2 separate regions of the Homo sapiens genome follow, and region 2 is linked to region 1. A link means that fine-mapping ties the variant in region 1 to the expression of a gene that starts in the linked region. Tissue or cell type: whole blood. Region 1 holds a variant in brackets; the other region holds the start of a gene. All regions are shown on one strand. Distances are from middle to middle.

Evidence for each region. PIP is the estimated chance that this variant, and not a neighbour inherited with it, causes the effect.
Region 2: it holds the start of VANGL2, and the variant in region 1 is fine-mapped to the expression of VANGL2 in whole blood (TOPMed, PIP above 0.99).

The regions. Positions count from the first base shown.
Region 1 is chr1:160,425,228-160,435,866 of GRCh38, reverse strand. VANGL2 (VANGL planar cell polarity protein 2) reads right to left here. Exons shown (of 8, transcript NM_020335.3): 8 at 7,197-10,639. The coding sequence ends at 10,489. It overlaps LOC105371467 (a long non-coding RNA gene), which reads left to right. Exons shown (of 3, transcript XR_922202.3): 3 at 2,941-3,002. Among named protein-coding and RNA genes, the nearest start is that of VANGL2, 30 kb to the right of the region's middle. RefSeq lists an enhancer at 5,770-5,999. The variant C/G (reference allele first, on the strand shown) is at 7,097.
Region 2 is chr1:160,394,642-160,405,280 of GRCh38, reverse strand. It overlaps VANGL2 (VANGL planar cell polarity protein 2), which reads right to left and starts at 4,717. Exons shown (of 8, transcript NM_020335.3): 1 at 4,412-4,717. All of the region lies in intron 3 of LOC105371466 (a long non-coding RNA gene), which reads left to right.

The sequences.
Region 1 (10,639 bases):
TTATTGAAGAGAATGAGGAAGCTCTTCCCAGTCAAAAAGATGTTGTGCCCCATCCTTTATTTCAAGGAAACCTTTCCTGACAACCTTGGTCAGTTTCCTACTGTAAGATCCCATAGTCCCCTATACTTCATCACTACATTCATCACCTTTGAAATTAAGTGATTACTATCTGAGAACAAAGACTATGTCCATGTTATTCAGTGCCATGCCACCAATACCTAGCATAGCTCCTGGCACATAGAAGGTGCTCAACAAATATTGGTTAAATGACAGAATGAGTGAAAAACAGTAAACACAGATAAGACAGTTTCCAGCAACATTTAACTACAAGGTCGTTAAGATCTTGAAGTTTGTACAGTGACCACCACTTGGGCAAAGAAACTTGAGAACATATTTCTAAATTATTGATATATGATGCTACCTACAATTATTGAAATATGGTGTTACTTTTGTGAAAGGAAAATAAATCTTGGGGCCCCAAAATCACTAACCTAAATGGAAAAGTCAAGCGAGGAACTGCTTAAGGCAAACCTGCCTCCCATTCTATTCAAAGTCACCCCTCTTCTCACTGAGATAAATGCATATCTGAGTGCCTCCTTCGGAGAGGCTAATCAAAAATTCAACAGAATGCAACCATTTGTCTCTTATCTACCTATGACCTGGAAGCCCCCCTCCTCACTTCGAGTTGCCCCACCGTTGCTTCAAGTTGTCCTGCCTTTTCCAGACCAAACCAATGTTCATCTTACATACATTGACTAATGTCTCATCTCTCCCTAAAATGTATAAAATCAAACTGTATTCTGACCACCTTGGGCACAGGTCATCATGACCTGAGGCTGTGTCATGGGCATGTGTCCTCAACCTTGGAAAAATAAAGTTTCTAAATTAACTGAGACATGTCTCAGATATTCAAGGATCACACTTTCATTCTATACCCATAGCAATTAATGCAAATATTGAAGTACATTAAGTCACCTTATCTGAAACTATCTAAATATGGTAAAACTCATGAATTTCCTCTGTTCTATTGGTCATTGATATGGTTTGGCTGAGTCCCCACCCAAATCTCATCTTAAATTTTTGTTCCCGTAATCCTCATGTGTCATGGGAGAGACCAGACGGAGATAATTGAATCGTGGGGGTGGTTACCCTCATGCTGTTCTCATGATAGTGAGTTCTCACAAGATCTGATGGTTTGATAAGGGGCTGCCCCCTTCAGTTGGCACTCACTTCTCTCACCTGCCGCCATGTAAGACATGCCTGTTTTGCCTTCTGTCATGATTGTAAGTTTCCTGAGGTTTCCCTAGTCATGAGGAACTGTGAGTCAATTAAACCTCTTTTCTTTATAAATTATCCAGTCTTGAGTATATCTTCATAGCAGCATGAAAACAGACTAATACAGTAAATTGGTACAACAGAGAGTGGGGTACTGCTATAAGGATATCCAATTATGTGGAAGTGACTTTGGAACTGGGTAACAGGCACACGTTAAAACAGTTTGGAGGGCTCAGAAGAAGACAGGAAACTTTGGAACTTCCTAGAGACTTGGAGGGCTCAGAAGACAGGAAAATGTGGGAAAGGTTGGAAGTTCCTAGAGACTTTTTGAATGGCTTTGACCAAAATGCTGATAGTGATATGGACAATGAAGTCCAGGCTGAGGTGGTCTCAAATGGAGATGAGGAACTTGTTAAGAACTGAAGTAAATGTCACTCTTGCAACGCAAAGAGACTGGCAGCATTTTGGCTCTCATTCCCTCTCCTGCCACAAAGTGAAGAAGGATGTGTTTGCTTCCCCTTCCACCAGAATTGCAAGTTTCCTGAGGCCTCCCCAGCCATGAGAAACTGAGTCAATTAAACCAGTTTCGGGTATTTCTTCATAGCAGCATGAGAATAGACTAATACAGTCATGTTGGCAAAAAAATTTCTAGCCAAAGATAATTTATATTGGAAACTGCTCCTTCAATTTCTATGGCCTTTAGTGATAAGATCTCATTTTGGCCCTTTTTTTGTGTCATTATTAACGTCTCATGGATCAGTTAAGTTGCATACTGAACTGCTTTTGTATAAACTCCACACGTAAGGCCTATCTCACAACATATCATTTAAGATTCTCATAAAATCACAATTTGATACAGGTGGCACAATTTTATAGCATGAGCAACAATGACCTTACCAAACTATTTATTACATTCATAAAATTTAGACCTCTTAACAATTTTGATCTCTTGCATCAATTATCTTAGAGTTAAGTAAGGCGTGTTTAGGACCCTCAAATTTTCAGGGGTATATTAAGCTTCTTTTAGGGCCTTGCTGCTCAAAATAAGGTCTGTAGAACATCAGCAGCAGCACCTGGTGCTTTATACTGTGTTGCCCCAGAATGCATATGTTGAAGCCTAACCCCCAATTTGATGTTATTTGGAAATGCGGCCTTTGGGAGGTAATTAGATTTAGATGAGGTTATGAGACTAGGGCCCTCGTGATGGAATTAGTGCCCTTATAAGAAGAGACATAAGAAACCTCGCTCTCTCACTCTCTCTCTCTCTCTCTCTCTCTCTCTCTCTCTCTGCCATGTGAGGGCACAGCAAGAAAGCAGCATCCTATAAGCCAAGAAGAGATCCCTCATCAGATCCTAACCATGCTTGCCAGCCCAATCTCGGACTTCCAGCCTCAAGAACTATGAGGAATAAATTTCTGGATTTTAAGACCCCCAGTCAGTCTATGGTATTTTGTTACAGCAGCCTGAGCTGACTAAGACACCTGGGCACCTGTTTGAAATGAAGAAACTCAGACCCTACCCAGACCTGTTGAATCAGGGTCTGTATTTCACATAATCCCCAAGTGATTTGTACACTTGCTATACGCACCATTAAAGTTTGAAAAACTCTATTTTGGGGACCTATTTCAAGACAGAGTAAAAACCCGATGAACATTTCAATTCCAGGAAAAAGGTTGCCCAGGGTCGAATTCTTCAATATGCTCCAAACCAGAAGTACACAATCTCGTACCAGTCACTGAAAATGAATTCTACAAGCTCAGCTTTCCCTGATGATACAGTTTGGATCTGCTTTCACTTCAACTGGATTCCATCTTTGAGGCCAGAGGTACTGTGTTAAGATATAAGTAAACTGACAGAAGACAAGAAGTCCTTCAACAAGTGTTCTTTATTACAGTAAAAACCATCCCAGCCAACCCCACCCTAAAATCACACATTCTTATGTCAAAGAGAACTAACATTAACAGGAACTTGAAAGGAGTGAAAATCTTCACTAAGTTAAATCACATGTTTCCTGACTCATTTAAGTCCCCTCATGCAAATTTTTGGTTGTCACAGTATTATTGATGGACCAACAGAGCTTCAGCTTCCTCTTCAGTGGTCTTTAACAGATTTCCAAGCTCCATAGTGACACTGTTAAGGGATTCAGGGGAAACAGCACACACCTGCATTTTTTTCCCCTGAATCACAAGTACCTATAATACTATCACTTTTATTACTAGAGCGGTGTCTAGAATTAGGTAAAGTTGTGCTTGATGTCTTCTTAGTCAGGTTTTTTTAAATAGAGTTTGTTTGTAATTTATTTATTTATTTTTGAGATGGAGTCTTGCTCTGTTGCCCGGGCTGGAGTGCAGTGGCACAATCTCAGCTCACTGCAGCCTCCACCTCCCGGGTTCAAACGATTCTCATGCCTTGACCTCCCGAGTTGCTGGAATTACAGGCGCATTCCACCAAAATAATTTTTGTATTTATAGTAGAGACAGCGGGGGAGGGTTTCACCATGTGGGCCAGGCTGGTCTCGAACTCCTGATCTCAAATGTAAATAGCCTTTTTAGAGTAGTTTTAGTTTCATGTGAAAATTGAGTGGAAGGTACAGGGATTTTTTATACATGCCCTGCCCCCACACTTGCATGGACTCTCCCATTATCTACATCCCCCACCAGAGTGGTACATTTGTTCCAATTAATCACTCAAAGCTTATAATTTACATTAGGCTTCACTACTGGTACTGTATATCCTATGGGTTTGGAAAAATGTATAATGCCAAGTATCCACATTTATAGCACATACACAGTAGTTCCACTGCCCTAAAAAATCCTAAAACCACATACTTTTAACCACATACTTACCCTAAGTGAAGCAGCAGCATGACCTAATTGTGCCCAAAAGCAAGAAGGGACAATACACAACCGAAGATCTCATACTCCTAATTTTTTTTTTCTTTTTTCTTTTCTTTCTTTTCTTTTTTTTTGAGACAGAGTTTCACTCTTATCACCCAGGCTGGAGTGCAGTGGCCCAATCTCGGCTCACCACAACCTCTGCCTCCCGGGTTCAAGTGATTCTCCTGCCTCAGCCTCCCAAGTAGCTGAGATTACAGGCATGTGCCACCACGCCCAGCTAATTTTTGTATTATTAGTAGAGACGTGGTTTTACCATCTTGGCCAGGCTAGTCGCGAACTCCTGACCTCAGGTGATCCACCCGCCTCGGCCTCCCAAAGTGCTGAGATTATAAGCGTGAGCCACTGCGCCCAGCCATACTCCTAATTTTTATAACCTTATAACCAAAGTCATTCCCCTTACAGGATATCAGAGTACAGATGGCTATTTTTGACAAGTGACATCAAAATAGTTTACATATCAGGCTCAATACCCTCACACACTGTTGGCTTCAGTCTGCCTTTTACAGATGGTATTTACCACCTCCAGGAAAATAGTGTGCTTCCTCGGGTTGCCTACAACATATGACAAAATAAAATTTCCCAACTTATCTAGCAAAAGTCCCATGAGCTCCAAGGGGAGGGGGCCAATGTTTTATTTATCTTTGTATCACAATGCCTACCACACAGTAAGTGTGCCCCCAAAACTTGCTGAGATGAAATGAGAGAAGCCAATGCCTTGGCCAGGTTTCCCAACTCTAAACCAGTACCTTCTCCCACTATTCTACATACTCAAATGTGGCATTCACTGTTATGAGCAGGTAGGATGTCATGTCTGCCCTGCCGTTTGTACCAAGAGAAATGGACCCCATTCTCAGCCTGAAAAGAAACTGGGGAGCTAGACAGGGATGACTATTCTCCAAGATTTACTATGTAGGTGGTCCTTTATTATCTCTCTAGCATCTTCCATGACCATGTGTACACTAATGCTGCAGTGCTTTTCCAAAGGCTGACTTTCCCCTACCCCAGCCTTCCTGGCAATTGGAAGAGCATTACTATCATATGCTTAAAGTAACAAAAAAGCCAAGGGTTACCTTAAGCAAGCTGACTTTCAGTCTGTAGAAGCCATTAAACTATCCCAAACAAACAAAAAAAAATAGTAACAAAAAAATTAAAATTAAAAAATAAAAAACTAATAACAAATCACTGAGACCTTGGTCTAAAGATCTTTATGTCTCCTCAGCCAGAGCCCCAGCCCCCAGTTCCCCCTCTCGGCTGTATTTCAAAGGCAAAGGCTAAAAAACAAAAATCACACATGGGCAGCATATGTAATCACATATAATCACATATAATGTCATGAAGTCCCAGGCATGACCCTGACAATCCACCAAGCTGGGTCCCTAACTTCAGTGCTATGTGAAGAACTTCTGTGGAAAACACATCCTTTCAAACAAAAGTTACAAATACCCTTTGCTGCCTGACAAATGGTCAGGATTATCACTTTTGCTTGCAGCAAACCTCTAGAGAAAATATGATCTTATCAATCAAATATTGAGGTCTGGCTTTAAATCTATGAATTCCTGGGGCCAGCATTACAAGAGGAGGTCCCTGAGGTTAACTAGCCTTCTCAAGGGTCCACCAAGGTTAGCTCAGTGAGGGCAGGACCATATCCAGTATCTTTACCAGAGAAAGTACTTTAGTATCAGGCTGGGAACATCATAGGCACTAAATAAAGAATAAACTTAAAAGGTGTTTACTATACTTGGCTGTTGAGAACAAGAATAATTTCAGAGGCATGCTAAGGTAGAAATTTGGTCACAATGTAAGTCACAAGTTGACTCTGAAATGAACTGGAAACAGCAAGTGAAACTATTCTACAAACCTAGTTACAGAAAGAACAGAGCCGTGAGAATGGGGATGCAATTTCAAGGGAAGTATTTTTGTTTGTTTTCACATGAGAAAGACTGGAGTGCAATTTTAAAGGGAGAAGCAAGTATATGATCCCTTTCATGAGCCCCTATTGTATTGTTAGTTGTTCAGTTCATTATTCATGCAACAATTTTTTATTGAGGACCAACTATATGCGAGGAACTGGTTTCAATTCTAGGAATACTTAGATGAACAAAATGTAATCTCAAGGTGAGTGTGTTCCCCCATCTTGAGTCTTAAACAAACTTCCTAGATTTCTTGAAGGAAACTCCCCGAGCTCCTTGGAATCCAGCCAGGGTTTGTCTACACTCTGCCTGAGAACACGCCATGAAGCCTTGCACTAGGGTCACCCAGCCTGTCACCCCTGTAAACTGGGTCATCCTCCAGGATGGAGCCTCTCTTGCCTTTGCATCCCCAGAGCCTGGCAGAGTATGAGGCAGGGGAGAGGAGGAGGAAATCTAGTGAATAGGCCACCTCCATACAGAAATGCTTGTTTTTAACCTTAGCAGGCTGTTTACATGCTAAGCATCTTGCCCAAAGTCACAGAGGTCAGGCCCAGGTAAGACTGGGAGAAGGGACCCAATCTCTTGAGGGTGATTTTAGTACCTGATTACATGCATTACAGTGACAACAGAGCACTGAACTCTCTACATATTTAGAACTAATATATATACTACAGAAACTTGTCTCAATGAATTGTGATGGGCTGTCACCACTGACTGAAATCTCAACTATCCCCTGAAATTCCTATGGCACTTTATGTTTTAGAAATACGTTTTAGAAACCCACTCCTGCCCTAGAGGCCATACAGACACAAGCTTGCTCAGGAGGGTGGACCCAGGAAGTAATCTTTCTTTCTCTATCCTGACAACTACACCAGGAAGTGGTTAAGCCCTCACATTGTTGTTTCTCTCTCTTTAGAATCAGGATTCAGAATAAGCAATTTCCTTTTTCATTTTCCCATTTCTCTCCAACACACCCTGAAGGCCTGCAGAGCAATGATGAGCTCACACTGCCCC[C/G]TCCTGCCCATTCCCTCCCTAACAAGGAATATATTCATTATTCCCTGGCCCTCATTTGCTCCCATTCCTGTAAAGAAAGAAAAGCAACAGAATGCCCCCACAAAAGTCAAATGTCTTTATTTTATATAAAAAAAATTTGTACAGTTTTAGTTCCTATGTTTAAGAAAAAAATCCTAAAATTGCCGTAATGTTTAGATCCACTGCAAACTGTAGAAACAAGCTTTTTATATATTAAAAAAAATTTACATTTTACAATTTTCTACATGCATGCACAAGGTCTCAGCTCTGTAACCCCACCCCCCCAAAAAAAAGGAAAAAAAATCTAGATCCAACAGTGGAAAATTCTACATTTACAATCTCACTTGGAAGGGACTCAAAAAGCCCTCTTCCTTTTGCGCACGGAAGAACAAATCACAACAATCACACACCAGGACTGAATCCATCAGCAGATACTGCCCTGTGGGAAGGGCAGAGGAAAGAGAAGACAGACGGACTGACAGACACCACAGAGGAACAGGGGAGTTAGCCTGGGACCAATGGAGGAGAAGTACGAACCCTGGGAAAAAGACGTGTCAGATGAGAAAGTTCCGGAGAGTCCGATGTCTCATCGCAGGTGTTACATCATCAGGGTTTGCCATTGGAATACTGAGTGGAGATGGGAAAGAGAAAAGTTAAGGGCTGAAATGGGAGGGGAATGGGAAGAAAAAATGAGAGACAAGAGGGAAATAAGAAAAAACAAAGAGAGCACAAAGACCAGTTTAGGAGAAAGGACCAATGGGGACAGTGGCAGAGTGGCGAGGTAGGTGAAGGACTGAGGCACAGCGTCCTGTTGTGGAGGGAGGAAAGGCAAGCGTTCCGAGGTGGTGAAAAGGAAGGCCTGCTAGGCACGGTGGGGATGAACGAGGATGCCATGAGTCACACAAAAGACAGTGCTGGTGAGGCCCAGCCACAGCAGCCCTATGGTGTCAAGGGGGTAAGAGGTGGGCATACCCCCACAGCAGGAGAATGAGCAGATCCAGCGCATGATGGGACAGACACAGTGGGGAAACTGCTCAGAGGGACTGAGTCAGCTGCACACCCCACAGCAGTTCACAGCATGGAGACAACTTCCCACAGGGGAGAAGCAGAGGACAAACACATGGCCATATGTCTGACAATTCATCCTGACATTTTAAAAAACAATAGTAATAATAATAATAATAATAATAATAATAATGAAAAAAGACAAAGATACCACAGTTCTGAAGCAAAAGACCAAAATGCTACCATTCTCAGGCACAGCCCTTAGTGCTTAGAGAGTTGGAGGCAAAAAATTTTTTTTAGGAAAGGGGAATGAAAAAAAAATCACAGTGATTAAAAACATGGCAGGATCTTAAAATAAACACTCCCCAGCCCCTAACCTAGGGCAGCAACTAAGATCCCAAATCCTTTCCCTCTCCCCCACCCCAACCTGCTCCTCAGACCACACCACACTCCATCCTGTCCACAAAGGCAATGACCCCAGTCACCATCCAGGCCCTGTTTTCCAGGATAGTGAGGTATTTATGTGACTCAGAAGGGACTCTCTGACACAAAGTTTTTGAAGAGAAGAAAAGAGACAGACCCCCAGAACAGGACATATTTCATACAGGCCTATCTCATAACCCTGGCCCCAGCCAGAGGCCCTGCCTAAGTGAGCTCCACAACCCACCCCTTTGGGGACAAGGTAAGCATTGGCCAATGAGCTCCTCTCTAGCATGCGGTGGGTAAACAAGTGAACTTTTGCAGAAAGGACAGCAGGAGAAACCCCGATCACTAGGCTCCATCATTCCCAGGGCTGGTGCTACACAGAGGGGGAGCCTCCCAGGGGAGACACTGGGGATCTTATCCCAGGATGTGCTCTGCAAGGTAAGTACCAACCAGTCTTTCAGGGAAAAGAAGGGCCTACAAAAGGACACTGTGAGTTACTCAGAGGAATGGCCTAGTCATTGCAGCCATCAGAAAGGTCCTCCATGTGGATCCTGGCTGGATGTATATGGGTACTTCCTAATTCTACTCTCCTTGGCAAAAATGTCTGAGTCAAAGGCTCAGATTTATATTGAAAATATTTATTAGAGGGCCAGCAAATTTTGCTCAAAATGAGATCTAAATTATCAAGAATTTGGATTTGGTGCAAAGACTATGGAAGCTAAAATGGGGTGAGGGGTGAAGTACCTACAAAAGGCAGTAATCCTTGCCCCTCAACCCAATACAGACGGAGCCCAGAGCTCAGAGAATCAGGCAGGGAGAAAAGGGGTGGGGACCCTGGAAGGCCAAGGAAACGAGACCCCTGAGGCAAAGAACTGGACTTAAGGCAGGGGATGAGGAGGAGCTGCCGGCTCTTCCCCAAAAGAGATGAGGCAACAGGTCTCTGGAGTCGAGAGAAGGCGGCAGGACAGGGGTGGCTGGTGACAAAAATAAAAACATTTGTCTAAGACCACAGGGGCTGGGTCAGGGTCTGCAAGCCACTATGTCTGTACAGGAGTCTACATACCATCCTTCACTGGGAAGAGCGGGGACGAAAGTGAGGGTAGGGTTAGGGAGCAGGAGTCAGTGATGGGGGTCTCTCCAAAACCTCAGGGATCTATTCAGCCCTCCTCCTCAGGGGCTGCCTAGGAAGACACATTGGAAGAAAGGTACCTTCCCCTAAGTCCCTGGAAAAGTGGTCACAGAGGGTTTCCACGTGGTTGCCTATGGTCACGTGACCATACAAACCAAAAACATTAGGTGGAGATTTCTGGGAAAAGGATGGGATCCTTCTTTGCTCTAAATATATGTGGAAGCAAATGCTCCTAGCAAGGAGATTTCTAACTCGGGCTGTGTGGCAGGAGTATCCCTGCCCTAGAACCCAGGGTTTGTTGTGGCTGGGGTGAGGGACAGGAGGGCCAGTTGCTGCCCTGGAGGAGTTTGGCACTGTGGCTCTCTGGAGTCATGTCCATGTGCCCCAGAGAAACCCTGTTGGGCCACTGAAGAGAAATGTTTTAAGAACTTGGATTTGTGAGTCGGGGCTCAGGAGGGGAAAGTACAATCAGCAGGGCCCTGTGCCCTTTCAGGAGAGACTGTAATCTGGGAAAAGACTAGGGAAAGAAGAGGGAGAGAGGCACTGATTCCTGCAGGGCCTAGAGTAATACAAAAGTTGTTGGTGAGGTGGGAGTCCTTCCCAGGTACTGTTGACAGCAGGATGGTCTCTCCAGGTTCACATGGGGTAAAATAAGGAAGAAGCGAGGAGAGAAGGTGGGGGTGCGTTAATTCAAGTAAAAAAAAAAGAGCAAGAAGAAGAAGGGTGGCAGGAATGTGGCTGGGCCTGAGAACCAAGCCCCCTCCCACCCCCTCAGGACCCCCCAGAGTTTCCCACTCCCCCTGCTGTTGCACAGTCACACTGAGGTCTCAGACTGCAGCCTCATGACAAACTTGTGTGACTTGGGATCCACAAATTCCTCGGAGAGTTTGAAGAATGGGACCTTCTTGGTGCTGACCACCAGGCTGAAGTCCTGGCGTTTTAAGAGGAAAACGATGCCATCCTTG
Region 2 (10,639 bases), 31 kb after region 1:
GTCCCAGGCCTTTCCTTCACCTCTGCTGCCAAAATCTCATCATGCACAGGGTTACCCACCTGTGGAAGGTAAAAGGGAAAATTTCAGGTCAATTCAGAGAGAGGGGAAGCTGATGTCAAGTGAACAGGGAGATGGCTCCCCACAAGGATGAGGGTTGATGCATACAGGAGTGAGCTGCCCAGGAAAGAGGAGGAAAGAGCAAGTTTTAAAAGTCCCATCCCCAGCCCAGACCCTGAGAAGAGGCAATAATACCCTAGCCTCTCTTCTCCCCTAATACCTCCAACTCTACCAAGCCCATAGCACAAGCAGGAAAGGGATGATTAACTTTGTTTTATAGACAGAGAAACTGAGGCCAAATCCCCACTTCATACTGCAAGGTACAGGACTACCAAATACCCTGTGTGCCTTCTTGCTCACGCTCAGCCTCCACCAGGAGTGCCATCCTAAGACCCTTCCTGTTGGCCTAACTCATCCTTTAACCAGGTAAAGTCTGTCCACACAAGGGAATAATATTCAGCTATAAAAGGGAATGAAGTACTAATACATGCTACATGCTACCGTGTGGATTAACCTGGAAAACATTATGTTAAGCGAAGGAAGCCAGATTCAAAAGGTCATGCATTCTATCATTCCATTTGTATGAAATATCCAGAATAGGTACATCCATAGAGACAGGATGCAAATTGGTGGTTGCCAGGGGCTGGGGTAAGGGGAAATGGCGACAATTGTGTAATGGGTATGGGTTTTGTTTCGGGATGGTGCAAATGTTTGGGGACTAGACAGAGGTGGTTGTTGCACAGCACTGTGAATGTACTAAATGCCACTGTTCACTTTAAAATGGTTTATTTCCTATTATGTGAATTTCACCTTAATTTTTTTAAAATCCAGCTAACAGGGCATCTCCTGCAGGAACCTTCCCTGGCACCTCACCCCAGGGCCAAGCACTCTTCCTCTATGCTCCAGTGGCCTCCTGAACACACCTCCACACAGCACTCACTGGGCTGCAGTGAATCAACATGTTTTCACATGTCTCCCCTGGGAAAACATCTTATTTGCCCCTCCATCCCCTGTGCTTCACACTGTGCCTGGCAGATAGGAGAGAGTGCCTAATGTGGTCGGCCAAAGGAAGATCAGAACCAAAGCCTAGTTCTCCTATCCCGACTCCGACCTCTCTCCCTTAATGATGATTATCCCTCAGAATCCGAACCATCCAGCTAACATTTACTATGTGCCAGGAACTGTGCAACGTGCTTTCTCTATTATTTCATTTAATCCTCATAACCCCAAGAAGTAGGGCCTATTATTAATTCCATTTTACAGGTGAGGCTTCAAAAAGTTACCAGTTTTGTCTGATGTCACGGAATTAGACAGTGGCAAAGCCAGAATTTAAAAGCAAACCAGGGAAGAAAGCCACTTGGTGGGGGACCAGGGATTCCTTGTGGAAGGGCTCAGTCTAGGCTTGGAGGATGTGCCTTAAGACACCTAAGAGGCTGGGGAATGGGGTTTATTACTTGCCCAGATCACACCACTGTTAAGTACTAATTCCAACCAACTCTGACTCCTTTCTCTGGCCTCACAATGTGATGAACACTTGAGGGAAGGAGAAGACTGGAGTTCCCTAAAACTCAGAGGGGATCAGATCTCTTCCTTTTCCCTGCCAAAGCTTCTGTTAGTCAAGTTCCCTCCCCATTAACTGGAAGGACCTGGAAACCAGATGAGCAGATAAAAAACTGTCCTGCTCTAGGGCCAGGGAAGGGGGGATATTTCCTCAGATCTAAAAGGATCAGGAGGAGAGGCAAACACACCAGAGAGGCCTGCCCCGGAAGAATTAGAGGAAATAGAAGTCAGGAGCAAGACAATGGGTGAGGAGGGGCCAACGTGGCCACTGACTCCCAATCTGGAAGTACTTTCAGAAATGGCATTTCCTATTATCTGACCACAATTCCTCCTCTTTGGAAGAGAGCCCCCACCAGCATAATATATCATGCATGTGATCAGCGTATACAGAGCAAACAAGGGACCCCAGAGGGCCAGGGCACACCATCTTAGATGCAAGTGCCTTACTAGCCCTGGGAGCCCTAACTATCAGACAGGTGTTGGGTTTGGGGGAATGATCCATTAAAAAAAAAAAAAGGTCTTTTAAAGGTCTTTTCCTACTCTGCCCCGTTCCCCGTTCCTCGTTCAAACATTTTCTAACCCCTACTACTCTTATCTCCAGGCCTTAGGGAGGGTAGGGAGCCCTGAGGACTAAAGAGGGAACATTCCAATTGCACATGCCCATTAGAGACTCTAACATTCCAATTGCAATTGCCCAGAGACCATAATGGGTATGTACAATCTCACCTCAGCTCTTAAAACTGGGTGCCTCAACCCAGCCACTGGCAGCAAAAAGAGTGTGCAATGGGGGAAGGCTAGTATCCTAAAGAAGGAGGTGAGCAACCCCTTTCCTATACCCCAAAAGAGAAAGGATGAGAGAGGACAGGGAGAGAAGGGAGCTGTGGCTTCTTGGTGGAAAGAGACATTCACTTCCTGGATAGTCACTGACTTCCCACCACACTATCATGATGATGAGTATAGCAGTATAGCCTGCAATGGGTACCTGGCCCTTTCCCGACACACAGACACTCAGCCCTGGCCCCACACCCACAGCTCCATCTCAATCATGCTTGACACCAGGGAAAAGGGAAACTTTTTGGTCTGATAAACCACACAGACTCACTTGCAAAAGCTGCTGAAGAAACACCCTATGCCACCTTCTCAACCCCATGGGCAGGGAACCCAAGCTGTTCCCCACCAGGTCTCAACCCTCCAGACATGCTTCCTCCTCTTGTTTCCATCCCACACCAAAATCTCAAGACTCCTCAGGAACTTTAGGATCTTAGAGTCAGGGCAGAGTTAGAAGGCTATGAAGCAGCAAACTCTGAGACGGCTTTCCAAGAGAACTGTGGCCTGAAGCTTTTACCTAAGGCTGGGAATCCAAGAGTGTAGCTTCTCCAAGCGCTGGAACCCAGCCTATGACGATGGGGGAGGAAGTTCCTCTTATTCTTCTCCCTGACCCCGCCAATCTTCCAAATTCCTCTAGGACTACAACCAGACCCCTTGTTCCCTATTCCCCACAACACACGCCCTCTTCCAGAAAAACCCATCCCCCAAAAACAGGCACTTCATAAGACAACTCATTCCCTCCCACCCATAGGTCTCAGATACTTAAGGTACTACCCCTAAACCCAGGCGAGGCCATCCACGAAGTCTCAAAATCCTGCAGACAGCCTTCTTTTCGGGATTTTTGCCAGGAAAATCTGCCTGCAGAGTCTAGAGGTACCCCCGACACACACTCAGAAACATACATACCAGCTAAGGCAGGCACACACATTGATACCCATCAACACAGGTTACACACAAGAGAACACAGATTCACACCCCTTCCCAGTACACAGGTGCACACACACCTATCCACATACACTCCATTCTGCTCTTACACACCCACCTTCCTCAGTACCTACACACCTCTTTCCCGTGAACCCCTCTCCCAGTACACACACATAGACATACACGCCCTCCCCTAAGTATACATATAAACACATATCCAAACACACAGCAGATGCATGGTCAGCCGCTCCCTGGGTGCACACACACTCAAGCACAGAAAAACACCTACACATCCAAACCAGGGGCCCACCTGCAGGAACATGCAGCACGTCAAGGCGTGCACACACACCAAAACAAAGAATCATGCACACGGATCCTCCACCAACCCTTCAAAACTCACTAACGCAGAGCCCACAGTCCCCCAGATGGGTAAATATGAGTGGGGAGAGGGATGCCAGCGCCTGTCCCCTCGGCCCCTATACACAGTCTACCGCCTCCAGCCCCATCCTCGGTCTGTACATACACCCTATCTACTCTGCCCAACCCGCCCCCCTGACTCCACTCTACACCCTTAACGCATACCTGCCTCCGTCCCTCCCCACGCTCCTGAGGGGTGTATGCACCCCAAAACACCCTTGGCTTCCAATACCTCCAGACTCCGATCCTTCCACGCCTCTCCCCCCACCTCCAACACAAGCTCCCCGTCTCCGGCTTCAACCGGCTCCCCTGGGATCATTAAGGCCCCCGCCCGGGCCCAGGAAAGTCCCCGGCTCTCCAGGCCTGGGCTCCGCCCCCTCCCCACGAGCCCCTTCCCCTCCCCAAAGTTGGGGGGGGTACTCCGCTGTGCAGTGGGGAAGCGGACCGGAAGGGGGTTGCCCGGAGTCCAGCCCCCCTTCCCCCATAAGCCACCCCGCTCGCTCTGGGGTCGGGCACCCCCTGGCCCCTTGCATGATTTTCCTCCTTTTCCATTTCTTTTTTTCTCTCTCTTTCTTTCTTCTTTTTTTTTCAAACTTTGCCCGCGCCCCCGCGGCCCGGCACTCACCCGCCGCTGCGAACTGCCGGGTGGGCTCCGCGGGCGCCCCGCTCGGCCCGTCGCCTTTGTATCCGCAGCGCTCCGGGTCGCTCCGAACTCGGCGCTCCTGGACAGGCAGCGCGCGCGATGGGGGATGTTGAGGGGGGGGTTCTTGAGTCTGGTCACCCCCTGCTCCGTCCCAGACCGCTGCCTCTTCCCCCTCAAGGCCCCGGGGGCTGGGGGCCAGGGGGGAATAGGGGGCGCTCAGGCTCCCATGGCGGGACCAAGGATCAAGGAATCAAGGATCAGGAATCAGATCGGGAGCCGGCGGCGCAGGGGGGAGGGGGCGGAGGGGGAGGGGATGAGGGTGGGGGGTGCAGGGGGCGGGGGAGCGCGAGCTCCCGGGTGCCGCCTCCCGGCTGTTCCCACAGCCGCCGCCCCTCCTACCGCCGCGTCCATTGTCTGCGGCCCCGCTCTTCCCGGAGTCGCCGCTCCCCCAGCCCTGCGCCTTCAGATGCCCAGCGGCCCTCCCCGATCCTGGGAATCCGCGGTGGGGCTGACACTCGGGTCCCGAACGGTGGGCAGGGGAATGCCTCGATTCTTGGACTTGGCCCAGCCCGCAGTCCCTCCTGGGGCTGTCTTCCTGGACCCCTCCTGTCGGAGAAGGAGCCCCCAGATCCCTGGGGCTGGCCATATTCTCTTTAGGGCCACGGACCCGACTACACAAAATCCAATGGAATCTGGGACGTGGGAAGATTGATTTTTTTTTTCCCCCTAGGGGTCCGAGAAGGGAGGGTCATCCCTGATTTTAATTAGTGGCGAGAGGCGCACGCCTCTTCCCATGCATACGGGGATTTCCCTGACACCATCACCACCATATCCCCTCCTTCCAAAAATAATTTAATTACTTGGAGTTCTAGCTGCGAGCAGCGACCGCCCCAGTCAGTCTGGGACGCTCCCTCATTAACACATTTTTCCTCCCCTCTGGTTTGAGTGTTGGGATTAATTACAAAGGGAACCCTGCCTTAGGGAAGAAGGGGAGGAGGAAAAGACGCGGGCGCCTGGGAGTTTGAATGGCAGAGGAGAGGGGGCCTTCTCCCAGGAAACCTCCAAGAGGAAAAATGCCTTGGCCAGTTGGGTCCCCAACCCCAAGCAGGCAGATTGTCCATCCCAGGAGTTTCAGATACTTTAGAGTTGAAGGTGCCACACAGGGATTGTAGGATCTCACAAAATATCCTACACGTTTGGGGCATTTGTGCCTCCCAGTATGCCAAGAAACCAGTTAGGGTTCTTTTACATGTGACCCTACAAGAGTGAACCCACACCGTAAAAGCCTGGGCTGTGGGAAGTCCATGTTCCCCTTGGAGTAAGTGAAAGCAGTATTCAATTATCATTAATGTTATTGCCGTGCAACCCGCCACTTAGAGTAGTATCATTTCAAAAGCATCTTCACATACTTCTCCCTAAGCAGGCCAAGGCCTTTTCAATATCTCAGCCTCCTTCAGTTTCCAATCCTGGCACCTGCTTGAACAACCCTGTGATTAAGGAATCCCAGAGAAAGAGACTCCCAGCCTCTGTTCCTCACTTGTTTGGGAATTTTTGCTCCTCCCTGATGAAAACTATTTCCTGAGACCTAATCTCACCCCTTTTGATGGTTCATTCTAACCTGTCCAAAGATGAGGACAGAACCAACTATGCTGCATTGTTCAAAGATGCAGAACAGTAAAACACACTTCCTTTCTCCTTTGCCCAAACTCTGTCTTTCCTCATCCCCTCCTCCAGTAGTATGGGTAAGCAGGTGACTCAGCATCAAGACTACATGAAATATGCAGAATCATCATTTCAGGTACCCAAGTCCCTGCATGCGTCCAGGCACTCATTCACCTTGTGCCTATCATGTGCAGGCACTGGGCCGCACTGGGGCTCCTGGCAGTGACCACGACCAGGTGTATGAGGGAGTGGCAGGAGAGCTGGGGAAGGGTTAAGGGAAGTAGGGAGGACATGGGTGTCCCCAGCCCTGCCCCAAAGCACACCCCAGTGCTAGGCAGCTAGTGTGTAATTTGACACAGAGTCGGGGCTGCCGTGGCACTGTCTTGACTCTCAGGCAGATTTAGTGTGAATTATCTTCACATGCTGCTAGCCTGTTTCACAGACCCCAAAATGGCCCAAAGAACTGGAAAAAGGGCTTCTGATGCCAGAATTACAGATAATTCCATAGTCTGGCCCCACTGAAAGCTTGAAACCTAAGTCAGGATGTTAACAGACAAGGCTTCCCAATTAACAGGTATCAGGCATCAGGCTAGAATAAGCTTAGTCCCTCCTTTCTCTGACGGTGAGGTTGGGGGCTTTCAATTACATCTCTGCAATGAAAACACTGGATTACAGAGTCCAACAAAAAATTTTATTGGTGTGGTCTGTCCCATTCAGCAATTCTCTGTATTACCTTCTACCTTCACCTCAGGATAGAATCCCATCTGGATTTCACACGTCCCCAAGTCACTGAGTAAGCAAACAGAGACCCAGCTAGAAGGCCCATGTGCCCTATGGTCTAAGGGACCTAGCTTAATTCTTTAGAAGGAAGGAGAGCACTGAAATGACATTCAACTGAGATTTTCCTAAAGGGGCCAACCTACAATAACAGAGGGAGGCCAAGAGCCTGAGGGACAATAGAATGGAACAGATTGGATTTTGTACAGCTCCTGTCCTTGAGGACATAGTCGAATTTCTTAATTTCTTCAAGCCTCAATTTCTGCTTATATAAAAAGGGTCTAATGAGGTAACAGAAGGAACACCCTCCATATACTCATAGTGCCACAGTCAATTCCCAGTCGAGTTTCCCCTCTCTGTTCTGTGCCTAGGATACTTCTCTTAGGAGAGAACACTTCTCTAGGACACTTCTTTCAGTACTCTTCCTCGGGGAAGGAGGCCCCTAGCTAAAAGCCAGGGCCCTCCATTAAAGCCCTTTCAACACCTCACCAGCTCACTAGGTGGAGGTGGGGCTGGTGGGGTCAGATCAGAGGCTTCCCAGGAGCCCTGGGAGTTGGACCCTCCTGGGGAAGATTCAAGGAACTCAAGAAGTGACAGTAGACTCTCTCTGAGGGAAGGTCCAGACTATAGAGAAGCACCTACCTACTTCCTGTGTGGATGAAGCTGTCCCTGGAGGTCAGGCCCAGACCACAGTAGCAAAAGTTAGGTTTTCTGCTCTGATGAAAAGTAGGGCCTTTTTACAATGCTGCTCAGAGAAAGGGAATCCTTGGTACCTTACTCATAGAAGCTTCACACTATAGCAGAATGGCCATCAAAGTGTTTCCATGTAAGCAATTAGCAATTTTAGCCACCTCCCAGGTACAGGTGACTGCAGTAATGTACCCACATGCAGGGCCACAATCACCATCTACTTCCAGCCCTGCTGATGAGCCTGGGTACAAGTTGATCTCCCGGAATAGTTACAGATCTTTCCCCAGCACCCACCTTCCCAGAAAGGCTACTCTCAATGCTCACAAAAGGATTTCCAGACCCAGTCTATATTGGGAAATACCTGGGTTCTGGGTGTGAGGGGTTTCCCCCTTCACTTTTAGTTAAAAAAAAAAAAAAAAAAGAATAAAAGTAGCTCACACACAAAAAAACTTAACTGGTCAAGAACTGTATTATGTCATAGGCTTGTGGTGAAGTGTCTGTCATGTGAGATCCTGATCTCTAAGAAGAAGGACCATGCCTCATTCATTTCTATATCTCTGGCACATAAAATTCAATAAGTTAGCATTAGCTGCCTTCCCTTCTAGCTTCCTTCTCTTTCTCCCTTCCTCATCTATGAAACCTTGACCACTCCCTATTCATCCAACCTTTATTAAGTGTGAGTTTCCTCAAATCCAATCCCATTATCATTAATCTAAAATGTTACCTGCAATTAAACCAGTGGTTGTGAACTTTGACTGCAGATTTTAATCACCTGGGAAGCTTTGAAAACACATCAATGCCCAGGACCATCCCAGACTAATTAAACCAGAAACTTCTGAGGTGTGACCCAGCTATTGGCATTTTTTTTAAGATACCTCAGTGATTTTAATGTGAGAACCACTGAATGAAACTTTCTGATTTCCTTCCTCCTTCTTGGGAAGAATAGACACTCTCCAGCTCCCTTGGCTGGGACTAGGCCCTGCAGGTGTGCGTTATATCCTGTCCTTTCCCACCTCCATCCATTATTCACAATCTCTCCTGTAACCAACTTCGGCCTCTTCACTGATCTTTGCCCAGCAGACATAATAAAATGAAATACCTTCCTCCACTCAGCAGCCTCCTCTTGCTTTAGCCTTCGCTTTTATTTCTTTCTCATCCAACCTTCTTAAAAGAGTAGATTCTTAGGCCAGGCCTGGTGGCTCACACCTGTAATCCCAGCACTTTGGGAGGCTGAGGCGGGTGGATCACCTGAGGTCGAGAATTAGAGACCAGCCTGACCAACATGGAGAAACCCCGTCTCTACTGAAAATACAAAATTAGCCGGTCATGGTGGCAGGTGCTTGTAATCCCAGCTACTCGGGAGGCTGAGGCAGGAGAATCGCTTGAACCCAGGAGGAGGAGGTTGCGGTGAGCCGAGTTCGTGCCATTGCACGCCAGCCTGGGCAACAAGAGTGAAACTCCATCTCAAAAAAAAAAAAAAAAAAAAAAAATGGATAGATTCTTTACTATCTCTCTTCCTCCCTTCACTCCTCAGCTCCTTGCACCCCAGCCATCCTTCCAATGTGTTTTCTACTCCTGACTTCAAATACTATTATTTCCCAGAATTCAGCCTTTGGCCCCCTTACTCCCCACTCCACATGCTTTTCCAAAGCAATGTCATTCACTCCTGTGGCTTCAGTCAGTACTCACTTATGAGTGCTGCTAAATCCAGGTCTATCTTGTGAGCATAAGACTCAAATTTTCAACTTCCTACCATACATTTTAACTTGGATATTCCTTGGGTATCTTAAATGTAATAGGTTTAAAAGGAACAACATTATCTTCCTTCCACCTCTATCCCCTTGGCTTATTCAGACCTTTATCATTTCCAAACATGTCTCATTCCCTTCCAATCCGTCTTCCTCCCATGTTGCCAATGTGATTTTTATGAAAGGGAAATCAGCCTGTCACTCTCTTACCTAAAACAATCCATGGCTTCCCACTGTCTACAAGATAAAGTCAAAACTTTTTGGCACCATACATAAGAAACTTCAGGCCCCAACTCATTCGCCTTCTCCAGGCTTATCTCCTAGTGCTCCCTGTGCATTTAAAGCCCAAACTTTCAACACACGTACATCCAAACTATACGCATCTACTCATTGTTCTGCCAATTTGAGGCTCTATTACTTCTCTGCCTTCTCACAAAGTTTCCTTTGCCTAAAATGCCTTCCTCCTTCTTTCTGCCTGGAAAGTTTTGTTGATCCTTCAAGACTGAACTGTGGCCTCCTCTGCAACTCTTTACCAATTTTCCCAAGCAAAGCTAGATGACCCCACACCCGGAGAACCTCCTTTGTGCTCTCAAAGCTCTGCATACCTTTGTTTTAGCATTTATGACATTGTATGGCAATTTCTTAATAATAATTGTATGGTAATTTCTCAATAATAGCATTTTGAGGTTGGAAGAGACTTTCTGAATTTTACAGATGAGGAAACAGGTACAAAGTAAGTGCCTCATTGCCCAAAGTCATACGGCTAATTAGTGGCAGCCCCAGAACTAAAACCCGGGTCTCCTGACTTACTGTTCAGCAGTCTGTCAACTGCACCACATTTACTGAGCACGGTTTCATCTGAAATAAAGATCATGGTAGTGACTCCTAGCCTTTTGTGGACTTTTGAGACTTTGATGAAAGCTACAAGCGCTCACCAGAACAATGTACACATGTACACACACAGAATTCACATCCATTCTCAGGGCATGCTGGGGGGTATGTGTGGCATTGGTTTAAAGAGAGAAAAATCTAGAAGTAGCAAAACCAGTAAGAAGGCTAATTAAATAGTTTGGGGGCAGGGTGGTGGAGGGGAGTTGAGCCTGGCTCCAAGGCTGTGGGGATAGATAAGGATAGAAAAGAAAGCTCATTGCCGGGCACCGTGGCTCAGGCCTGTAATCCCAATACTTTGGGAGGCTGAGGCGGGTGATCACGAGGTCAGGTGTTCGAGACCACCTGGCCAACATGGTGAAACTCCGTCTTTACTAAAAATACGAAATTAGCTGGGCATGGTGGTACATGCCTATAATCCTAGCTACTTGGGAGGCTGAGGCAG